2 linked regions of the Homo sapiens genome follow. The protein of the gene in region 1 interacts with the protein of each later gene in a pairwise test. Each region holds a gene or a part of one and is shown on either strand. Other genes may lie near its edges.

Region 1 (5,843 bases):
CATCTAATATTTTTTTCTTGGGAAAAAAAAAAAATCTAGGCCTGTACTGCCCAGTACAGTAGCCACTAGCCACATGTGACTACTAAGCACTTGAAATGTGGCTAGTGTGAATTGCGATTGGTATAAGTGTTACATTTCATATTGAAAGAATGGTATTTTATATGTATTAGATTAAACATTATTAAAATTACTTTCACCTGTTTTAGATTTTCACCTGAAAATTTAAAATTACATATGTGGCTTGTATTATATTTTTATTGGACAGCATGTTAGACACAAACCAAAAGATTAGAACAGAAAATATATCCAGTAGCTATCATCCTTTTGTAGTATTAGTATGTCACCAATAATGGTCTTCTATAAAGTTGTTTTCATGAATCGTTCCAGTAATTTATAAAGAGAAAAGCCTAACTGGGTTAAGTGTGATTTTAATAATAATGAGTCTTAAGAATTGGTTTCTTCGATCCATCCAAAAATGTCCTTAAAAGCTCTAAATTCTTATCACTTCTCCCTACCCCACCCTTCAGGTAAGAACTTAGAGCTTTCAAGGAAGTTTTTGTCCTTAGTGTCCATAGTGTATCCATTGGACCAGTATTGCGAGCAATACATGGCCCAAACTTTCAATTTTGGTAAAGTGCCATTGGTCACAGAATACTTAAATTGTTTCAGGGAAATTTAGATGTTTAAATTCAACTTCACAAGAACGTTAACACTGAGTGATCCAACAGTTATTATGGTTGACCAAAGACCCATTGCTCAATGTTAACAATTGGGAGAAATGGGTGTGGTAGTAAAATTCCAGTTCTCTGAGCTGGATGGATATTCACCAGAAAAGGCATTTATTTCTCCATAACGCAGCAAAAGCAGGATCTCATTGTTTAACTGTCTACTTCAATTGGAGATTACAGGGAACAGACTGATAGCAATTTAACTATACTAAGGCCCAGGTTATGAGATCTCGAAAATGAAGTTATCTTGTTATCTATCTGACATTCTTTACTTACAAACTTTAGTACTATACCAATGGACTATCACATAAAAGTGATGGCATCCTTCATGATTTGATAAAAGTCATGATACCAACACATAATTTATTTAACGTCTCTCTAGTGATGAAGTTACATCTGTTCATCAATACATTCTAATTATATTGTGTGATGGAGGGAATACATTTATAAGACAGCTGAGATAATAGAAGTGTAAAATCTGGCTGCAGAAGAAAAACCCTGAGAATGTCTGAAACTATTACTCAAGCTTCATTAGTTCTATAACCAAAGCAACCCAGCACAAACTTTAAATTTTTCTGGCTACAGAATAAAAAACTTTTTAAAGAAAAAAGTTCTAGAAATTCTGAGAGAAAAAAGTTTCCTTTTCGTTGACAAGCCTTAATACATAATCAATTGTGAGAGAAATGCTATTTGAAATGTAGGGATAGGAGCCTTGGTTTCTAGTTGTAATTTTGCTGTGCATGTGTAACATGCGTGACACTGTTGAGAATTTGGTAGTTATTTTAGCTCAAACTTCCTTCAGTGCCAGATGTCTATAAATAAATTTAAGATCCTAGAAGACCTACCTACTATGATCACTCTAGCTGGAAGTGATCTGTTATCTTTTTCTCTTTTTGGACAAAAAGGGTATGATCCAATCTAAACTTCTATAAAACTCGTCTGAACCACTCAAAAACAATGACCATAGGTTACCTTAAGTTGTCTCCTTAGCTCCCCTTTAGAATCGACATTTCTGGAAGAATGTCTACATATCATTCTAATACAAATTATTACCCCTATATTGTCCCTAATACATTGTCTTGCACTTTTTTGATACCAATACATTTTACTGGATTAATACATCTTACTGAATTAATTGGGCGGTACTTGGCAGCAATGTGGTTCCTGCCTGCCTGTGTTCTCCAACTTCCAATTCCGTTTACTGGATCTGGCAATCAGCCAGGAACAGGCAAAAGTGTTATTTCAGCTGTCTTAACTCTAATACATAAATTACTGCATCAGCAACATCCATACTTAAGAGTTCAGAGAGTGAGAATCTAGGGCCTTGTGGCCTAGCTAGCATTTCCAGTGGCTATCCTTGGCTACACCTCTGTCCTTTCAATATCCCTGGTATACCTACGTTACAGAAAATCTGTGTTAACACCAATGTACTAGGGTGTGGTGTTATATACCTCTAGTCTCAGCTACTTGGGAGGCTGAGGCAGGAGGACTGCTTGAGCATGGGAGTTCAAGGCTCCACCTGGTCAACATACTGAGACCCTCAACTCTAAAATAAATAAATTTTAAAAAATAACACCAATATATAGATCCCAATACTGCTCTAATGGATATTAAGTGCTATCAATAAGTACTTCTTGACACATCACTGGATGAATGAAAACAAACAATGATTACATTGAGAGTGACAATGAGTTGGTTTCAAAGCTATATTGAGTACTATTCACTCAGGCATACTCAATACATTTTTGTGAGCTCATGGCTTTCCTACTTGTGATTCTCAAAAGAATCCTATTGGAACCCCCCCACCCCCCAATCACAGTAAAACCTCAGATTAGGTCTTGGCAAACTCATTTTCTTGACAAATACAACTTAGAGGTTATATCTGGTCCCTCATTTGGATTATACTATATAAATTCTTCAGTGATTACTGTCGTTTGGTATTTGGTTAATTAAATCTACTGAGTGAGGTCAAACTTGCATTTGTCTTGTGTCAAGTTCCATTCTATGGCAGACTAATTTAACAGAGATTCCAAGGTTCTCTGCCTCCAAGCTGAATAAGCTACTAGAACAAAAAACAACTAGAAGCCACCTTATTCCCAATTCATTAACGTTGACTTCATGGTCCACACCAGAAAATGAACGCAACTCAATTCTCGAAGACACTATTCTAGAATTTTATACACTTAGGAATTCAGATCACAGGCTCAAAAGTTTTAGCAGGAGACCCACGGAGCTTGGGCCTTGATGCAAAAGCAGCTTTTGAAACTGCAAGCCACTCTACGCTTAATCGCGGCAGCTATAGGGAATTAAGTTTATTTCTGACCGCAGCATGCTAAAAATCAGTAGGATATGGGGCTAGAAGCAACAAAAAACGTAACAAAAATTAATTCCCCAATAAAGCTTTAAAAACTATTTTCCGTCGCTAACTGAAGTACGTAGCCAAATATGGAAGCTCTAAACATTCAGCTTTTCTTTAAAATCATAGATATCACCTAGTGTCGTCACTCGTTCTCTCCCCCCTTGTTTCTGCACCCTTTAGGTGAGTGAACACGACCTTGGCAGATGCACCCTACTGTCGGGATGTGGCCTTGGGGCGGAGCTGGCAGATACAAGCAGGATGGTGAGTGGAGGCGGCAAGGAACTCTTACAATAACACTATCCAAATGCCCTCCGACCTTCCGGAGGCAAAAAATGACCCTCTGGTGCCAGAGACTCGGTGAGTGGCGTGACCTAGAGATGGAGGACCAGGACGCAGCAAACCAGGCACAGAACAGTACCCAACGGGACAGAGTTCCACCGGACCAGCCCCCTTCCCAGAGCGCGCGGTAAGACGGGCGGCGGCCTCCATCCCAGGCTGCACACAGAGGGTCCCGGGATCTCCAGCAGCATCAGGCCTGGGACCCGGGCGCCAGCAGAGACAGCGGCACCGAGTGAGGCAGTCCCCTGCCGCGCCAAGAACAAGACCGGGGACAGAAAGAAAGCGAATAAAGATGAGGCAGTGGTGAAGGGGCTGGGCATCACCGTACTTACCTTTCCTCGTAGCCCCCACAGCACAGGATGCCGTGGCCGCCGCTCACCCACCGGCTCAGCTCACGCGCGCAAGCACCGCCCAACCGGAAGCGGGTCCGCACCCCGCCCTCATCCGCCTCGCCGGCGGCCTCCCGACCAATCATCAGCAAACCCGCCGCTGTCGCATAGCGTCCCCGAGTAGCCATTGGTCTAACAATCGCATAGCCGGGATTGGCTGGAAAGCGCCACGTCCCCGGGACCGCGCCGAGTTGCGTGGAGCGGATTCCCGCCCAACTCTCGTCCCCGGGATTGTTGGGACGGCGGGCTCCAGCCCCAGCCCCAGCCCCAGCCCCGTACTGCGGGTGGCGTGGGCGCGGCCGTGTGGCCGCCACGTCCCCATTCACAGCTCATGACTCTGCTTCCACAGGGCTTCTTAGACTATCCTGCTAGTTATCTTCATTCCCACAAGACCACCAGGGCGGAATTAATCCGACTGAATCAGTCACCAACTTTATTGAACAATCCCAACTTTTTCTTTCCCTTCAGCGCTGCGCCCTGCGCTATCTACAGGAGGCTCTTCAGTCTTTGGCACCAGTGTATCTTTTAGCTCCATCTCCCAACACTCCCCCTCATCTTGCGCTCTGGGCACCATCATCTGTTTCCTAACAACCGGTCCTTTTTCATCTCTTAAGATTTTTGATCAAGAGGCTTCCTCTGCCAGGAATAAGTGCGTTTTCCTGATTTTCTGCCTTGCCAATAGAAGTCCCAGTTCAGATGTTAGCTCTAGAAGCCTTCCCTGACCTCACTAAGCATAATTCTTACCTTATTTACCATCATAGCTGTTTATAGCTTCAGTACACTTTGCCAAATTCTGCTATAAAATGTAGCTTATCCATCTGTCCTCTTCTAGAGTAAGCTCCTGGGTAGGTATCTGTCTATTCATCTTTATATCTGCAACTCTGAGCTTACTGCCCAGCTCAGTAATGTTAAGTGAAGGGAATGGGCCGAACCCGTTGCATGTCCCTGAAAATTTAATTTCATGTCATGAAATTAAAACAAATATCAAATAAAGGCTACTATAGCTTCAACACAAATGGAATGTAAACCTGTGGCATTCTTAGCACATAAAGCCTCTGTAGTTTAAAATCAAATTGAGACAAGTTGTAAACTCATGAAACAGTTAAGCTCATGAAAGCAAGCTAGTTACTGTCAACGTGAAAGGTTTACAACTAATCCTTCTGGCATTCAAAGGAGTGTCAGTGACCCTTGGTGGTAGTCAGGGAAGGCTTCAGAGGAAGATATGACTAAGGCTGGACTAAGGAAGTCCCAAATGGACTATTCAGCAAGAAGAGTAATAGGAATAAGGACAAGTGGAGGGCAGAGTGGGAGGTAAATTCTCAGGCCAGGTAGCAAATGAGGAAGGTTAAAAAAAGGGGTGGGGGGAAACAATGAAAGAAAAGCATGGATAGTAAGTTTGGAGAGGTAATGGAAGATCTTGTCAATTTGAGGAACCTGAACTGAAGACAGTGGGAACTGTGGGTCTTCCTGGGAAAGTTTCTAAGCTTGTGCCTACAGGGAAGCCATCTAATGGGTATTAACAATAAAACAGGCTACCTCAGGAGGCATTATTTCGAAAACAGTTTTTAAAATACCTCCTTAAGGATCACTTGAGGCCAGGAGTTTGAGACCAGCCTGGGCAAAATAACGAGACCCTTCCTCCCCCTATCTCTACAAAAAAACAAAAACTAAAAATTAGCTGGGTGTGGTGGCACACACATGTAGTTCAAGCTAGTTGCTTGAGCCCAGGAGGTTGAGGCTGCAATGAACTATGACTGTACCACTTCACTCCAGCCTGGGCAACAGAGCAAGACCCTTTCTCTTAAAAAATAAAAATAACAACTCCTTAAGGTCAGGCACTGTGTTATGTGCTGGTGAACCCAAAGTAAACAGGACATCGTCCCTGTCCTCAAGGAACTCAGCTTAATGGTGCGCCATCCATCCTGGAATTGTCCTAGTAAAGGCTAAACAGGTAGTGAGGGTGCCAGAGATAGGGCCCTCCAACCCTGAGGTTCCCTAATGGAGAAGGGCCTGGCCTAGCAAGGGAAA
Region 2 (5,066 bases), on another chromosome or scaffold:
AGGCAGAAACACTGCTTGAGCCCAGGAGTTCAAGACCAGCCTGAGCTTATAATAGTGAGACCCTATCTCTACAAAAAATTAGCCAGACATGGTGGCATGCACCTGTGGCCCAGCTACATGGGAGGATGAGGCAGGAGGATCACTTGAGACCAGAAGGTCAAGGCTGCAGTGAGCCATGTTCACACCATTGTCTGGGCAAGAAAGTGAGACCCCATCTCAAAAATAAGAAAATTTTTTTAAAATTCTAATTTCATTGTCTTGAGCCCTTGACCGTCTTCAAGAATATAAAGGAATTAAGCCTGGGTGCAGTGGCTCACTTTGGGAGGCCAGGGCAGGTGGATCGTTTGAGGTCAGGAGTTTGAGACCAGCCTGGCCAACATGGTGAAACCCCATCTCTACTAAAAATACAAAAATTAGCTGGGCGTGGTGGCGTGCATCTGTAATCCCAGCTACTCGGGAGGCTGAGGCATGAGAATCGCTTGAACCCCTGAGGTAGAGGTGGCAGTGAGCCAAGATCACGCCACTGCACTCCAGCTTGGGCAACAGAGTGAGACTCTATCTCAAAAAAATAAATAAATAAAAATAAAAGAATTAAGAAAGCACAGCTAAGGGAAATGAGAGGTCTGTGTGAGGAGGGTCTGTCTGGAGAGCTGCTGGGTGCCCACTGTGACTCCCTCCTCCAGGCATGCCTCAAAGCGCAGGGAGCAACAGGATAAAGGGGTTGAGGGGCAGGGGTGGGGGTAGGGGGGGCAACAGGAAAGCCTCTGAAGAACCACTAAGGTATCCATGAGAGTGAGAGTCCACTGTAAATGTCTACCAAGCCCAAAGCCATTTGATAAGGGTGCTGGTCACTAAAAACCTTCTGCCTCTCAACTTTCTCTCTTCTCTCTCTATGCCACAACCTGACAAAAATCAACAACAGCTACGTAACGGAGGGTGAGGAAAGTGAAAAAGGGAGAAGAGACCACATCTTCCCAGCTCTATCTAGTTGGAGCTGGGAAAACAGGGAACAGGGGAGAAGCTCTACAACTAAATGAAGATTTAAATAATGATTAACATTCTAATTTTCAACTGAGATTATGTTTTGTGACTTAAAGCAGGAATTGGTAAACTTTTTCTGTGAAGGGCCAGAGAGTAAATATTTTAGGCCCTATTGTGACTATCCAACTCTGCTGTTGTAGTGAGAAAACAGTAGACAGTAGGTCCACAGATGGGCAGCATTGTGTCCCCATACACTCTACTGACGAAAACGGTCCAGTTGTAGTTTGTGAACACCTGACTTAAAGTGACCATAGGACTTTCAATAACCTGAGAGTGGCCAACTAAGTCATGAGATGACCAATTTTTTATTCAGGGAACAGGGAAACCCTCTCAACCAAAGGAATATCTTTTAAAATTTATTTCAGTGAGATAGAATTGATATAAAACAAAATGTACCCATTTTAAAGATACTGTTCAGTGAGTTTTGATGAACATATACAGCCATGTAATCACAACAACTAATTTTGAACATTTCCATCATGCCAAAAAGTCCTCCCATGCCCTTTTGCAGTAAATATACCCCAACCTCTGACCCAAGATAGCCACTGATCTGATTTATGTCATTATAAATTAGTTTTGCCTTTTCTAGAATTGTTTTTTTCTAAATGGAATTTTATACATATAATCATTTGTGCCTGGCTTCTTTTGCTTAGTATGTCTTAGTGATTCATCCATATTGTTGCATGTATCAATACTGTTCTCTTTTATTACTGAATAGTATTTGGTAGAATTATTCCAAAATTCATTTATCAATTCCTCTGTTGATGGAATTCTAGGTTATTAGTTTTTTATTATTATGAATAAAGTGATGAAAATTCATGTGCAAGCTTTGAGAATGATGGCATTAATAAAATCATGGCTTCAAAATAACTATGTCAAAGGAAAACTTTTTTTTTTTTCTTTTTTTGAGACACAGTCTCACTCTGGCACCCAGGCTGAAGTGCAGTAGCGCGATCATGGCTCACTGCAGCCTTGAGCCCTGGGGATCAGGTGATTCTCCCACTTCAGCCTCCCGAGTAGCTGGGACTACAGGTGCTAACCACCACACCTGGCTAATCTTTTGTGTTTTTTGTAGAGATGGGGTTTTGCCATGTTGCCCAGGCTAATCTCAAACTCCTAGGCTCAAGTGATCCTCCCACCTTGGCCTCCCCACAGTGCTGGAATTACGGGCATGAGCCACCATGCCTGGCCTCAAAGGAAAACTTTTAAAACCATTTTCTAGGCACAGAGACATACTAATAATACTAATGTATTTCATACACCCATACAACATGAAAATCACAAAGAATTAGAAGAGGCTAAATTTCAAACTATACTTACTTCTTTCTTAAGTTCATTAAGACTGTGACTGATTTTCAAAATACTGAGTTCCAGTTCTTCAGCGATGCTTTTTGTTTTCTTGCTTTGCTAAAAATTTTAAAAAGTATACATGTAATGTTACCGCATCTCTTTAATCTGTTAATTACAATTTTGTTTGGACTGTAAATTGTAATAAATTTTAATACTATTCTGTGAACTATAAAAGTAGATTTTCAAAATTTACCTGTTTAAGTTACAGTGGAAAATAAAATTTCAGTTTAGTTATATTTTTCAATGCTAACTACAAATAGATGAACTTCTGTTTTTTTATTTATTTATTTTTCTGTGAACCTATGGATTATATTGAAAGGTGAACTTTTAAAATCTAATTTTCTTTAATAAACTCAAGTCTAAAATTAATCTCTTTTATTTTCTGCCTAGAATGTCCATGCTTTCACTCCTAACCTAGTTAAAAATTAAAATCCTACTCATCTTTAAGATCTTACATAAATGTCTTTTTCTCAGAAAGGCTTTCTCAGATCACTCAATCTAAATCAGACCCTCTTCTTACTCACTGTAATCTTTTTGCTCCATAATCGTCCCAGTTTGCAATTACATATTTATTTTTTCAGTCCAAACCATCTGGAATTTTTTATTTTTTGTTTGTTTAAAGTCTATCTTCCCCACTAGGCCACGAAAGCTGGGTTCACATCTATTTTGCACACCACTAAATCCACAGTACCTGGCATAGCAAATGGTAGGTCGTAGATATTCAATTCTTTGCATGATAAATAAAAATTAAATATCACTACTTCATGAAGACTTCTTGAGCCCCCTCCCTAAATATAAATTTGTCCTCCTTCAAACCCTCTCAATGCATAGTCTACACTTTCTCTTAGGATACTTACAAAGCTATTTGTACTTGTCTCACCCCTTCCCGCAAATTTCTATATTGTAAAATTCTTGCAGACAAAGATTTTAGCTTATTCATCTTTAGATTTATGGTGCTTGGCATATAAAAGGCACCAGTAACAACTGCTGAAAAAAATGAATGAATGAAAAATACACCTAGAATGCAGGATCAGAGATCTGAGTGCTTGTGAAATATGCACGGGTAAATTTGCTAAATTTGTGACATTTGCTAATTGCAAATTTGAGTATTGATAGAATCACATTCCCAACAGAGTATTTCATCACAAGCAACTCTTTATAGTGAGTGTTGGACTTAAAACTGAACACTGAAGCAATCTACACTTCAGATTGTGTATCACACAGATAATTCAAACTAAACACAAAACATTGCTCAAGTCTCTCACACGACTATACTCTAGGGCAAGATTCCCTGTTAATAAGAACATGTGCACTACTGTGATGCCAAGAAAACATCAGAGAAATCTGTGATTCATATCTACTTTCATTCATAAATTAATCTACTTACAAGGAAATCAACTGCTCCTTCTTTCTTCAGTCTCAGCCATATCCACCCTCCTTCATCATCTTTACTGCCAAAGCTTTGTTCATGACTTCCAGATTTGTACTATCACTGCTGTATATTGTAAGCCATGTTAAATACTTTTCTGACAGAGCCTGGGCCTAAGAAATAAATAATGCTAGAGACATGTCCCAGGGCTCTCTGTCTCTCCACTTTGCAATCCACCTGCTATAAGAGATTGTGTACACACACTTCCTGTCTGTCCCACTTCTGTCAGTCTTGGCCATTCTTGCCCAAATAAGCTCCTCTGTTTGAAGCACACCAACAGCCCATTTAAGGCTCACAGAGTGGCCACCCACCAATTTTAGACCAGGAATTTGTGCAAGGGTGAAAAGCTTTTACTTGCCAGCTGGATCTACCCTTGTTTTCATTGAATCTACACCCCAATAAGTTTTCTAAATCATTGTCTCTGTAAATCAGCTGTCCTCAGAGGTAAGAATTGTGTACATGTGAATGGCTCCAGCAGTCAGGCTCAGGTCCCAAGAACCTCTAGGAGGGGGTCTACTCCTCTGTTCTTCACTCTGAAGAAGTATTTTGGGGAGGAATTTTCCAGAGGTGAGTTTGGTGGAAGAGTAGGGACAACAGTGTGAACTAGTGATAGTGACAGAGGCATATAATTGAGACTGGCTAGAATGAGAGTCAACAGGCCTGGAAATAAATGTCAAGTATTGTAAGTGCTAGATGGGAAGGATATTTTGGCCAACTAGGAGGGAAAGAAGGGATGAGATATCCTGTCCCATTCTGGAACAAATTCATACTCCTGGTGATTATGTAACTTCCATATCTTGCAAAACTTTATGGGAAAGCCATTATATAAGATTTACTTTGATTTTAAAAAAAGTTCTTACAGCTTGAATCCACACAGAAATTAACTGCTGCAGTTCCATTCTCGCCTGAGTTGACAGTTCCAAGATGCGTTCTCTGTGCTCATGGCTGGTGTAGGCAGAATCAGTAAAGTCCTCCATACGCTCCAAGATGACTTCCAATGTCACAGAAAGGTTCTCTTTGGACTGAAAATAAAGATTCTCCCGAAGAGCTTCAATATTCATCTGAGAACAAAAAGGACATCTATCCATCCATGTGAGTCAATATTCCCACCTGACCAAAATGGGCTGTAATTTCTAACAGTGCCCAGGAAAACACTAGCATTTCCTTTTCCCAAGCTGAGGGGAAATACAGCCACCAATGATATCTATATTCGCCACTAACCCAGAAGGATACATTGCTCAAAAGC

What was found.
Region 2: the proteins of CALU (region 1) and CTNNAL1 interact in a two-hybrid assay, tested with the Homo sapiens proteins (one large-scale study listed by BioGRID and IntAct).

The regions. Positions count from the first base shown.
Region 1 is NC_000007.14:128,737,348-128,743,190, reverse strand, and holds the start of CALU (calumenin isoform a precursor), read right to left. Parts: upstream 3,833-5,843; 5' UTR 3,759-3,832; intron 1-3,758. UniProt on the Homo sapiens protein: Involved in regulation of vitamin K-dependent carboxylation of multiple N-terminal glutamate residues. Seems to inhibit gamma-carboxylase GGCX. Binds 7 calcium ions with a low affinity.
Region 2 is NC_000009.12:108,974,601-108,979,666, forward strand, and holds part of CTNNAL1 (alpha-catulin), read right to left. Parts: intron 4,882-5,066; coding exon 4,681-4,881; intron 2,449-4,680; coding exon 2,362-2,448; intron 1-2,361. UniProt on the Homo sapiens protein: May modulate the Rho pathway signaling by providing a scaffold for the Lbc Rho guanine nucleotide exchange factor (ARHGEF1).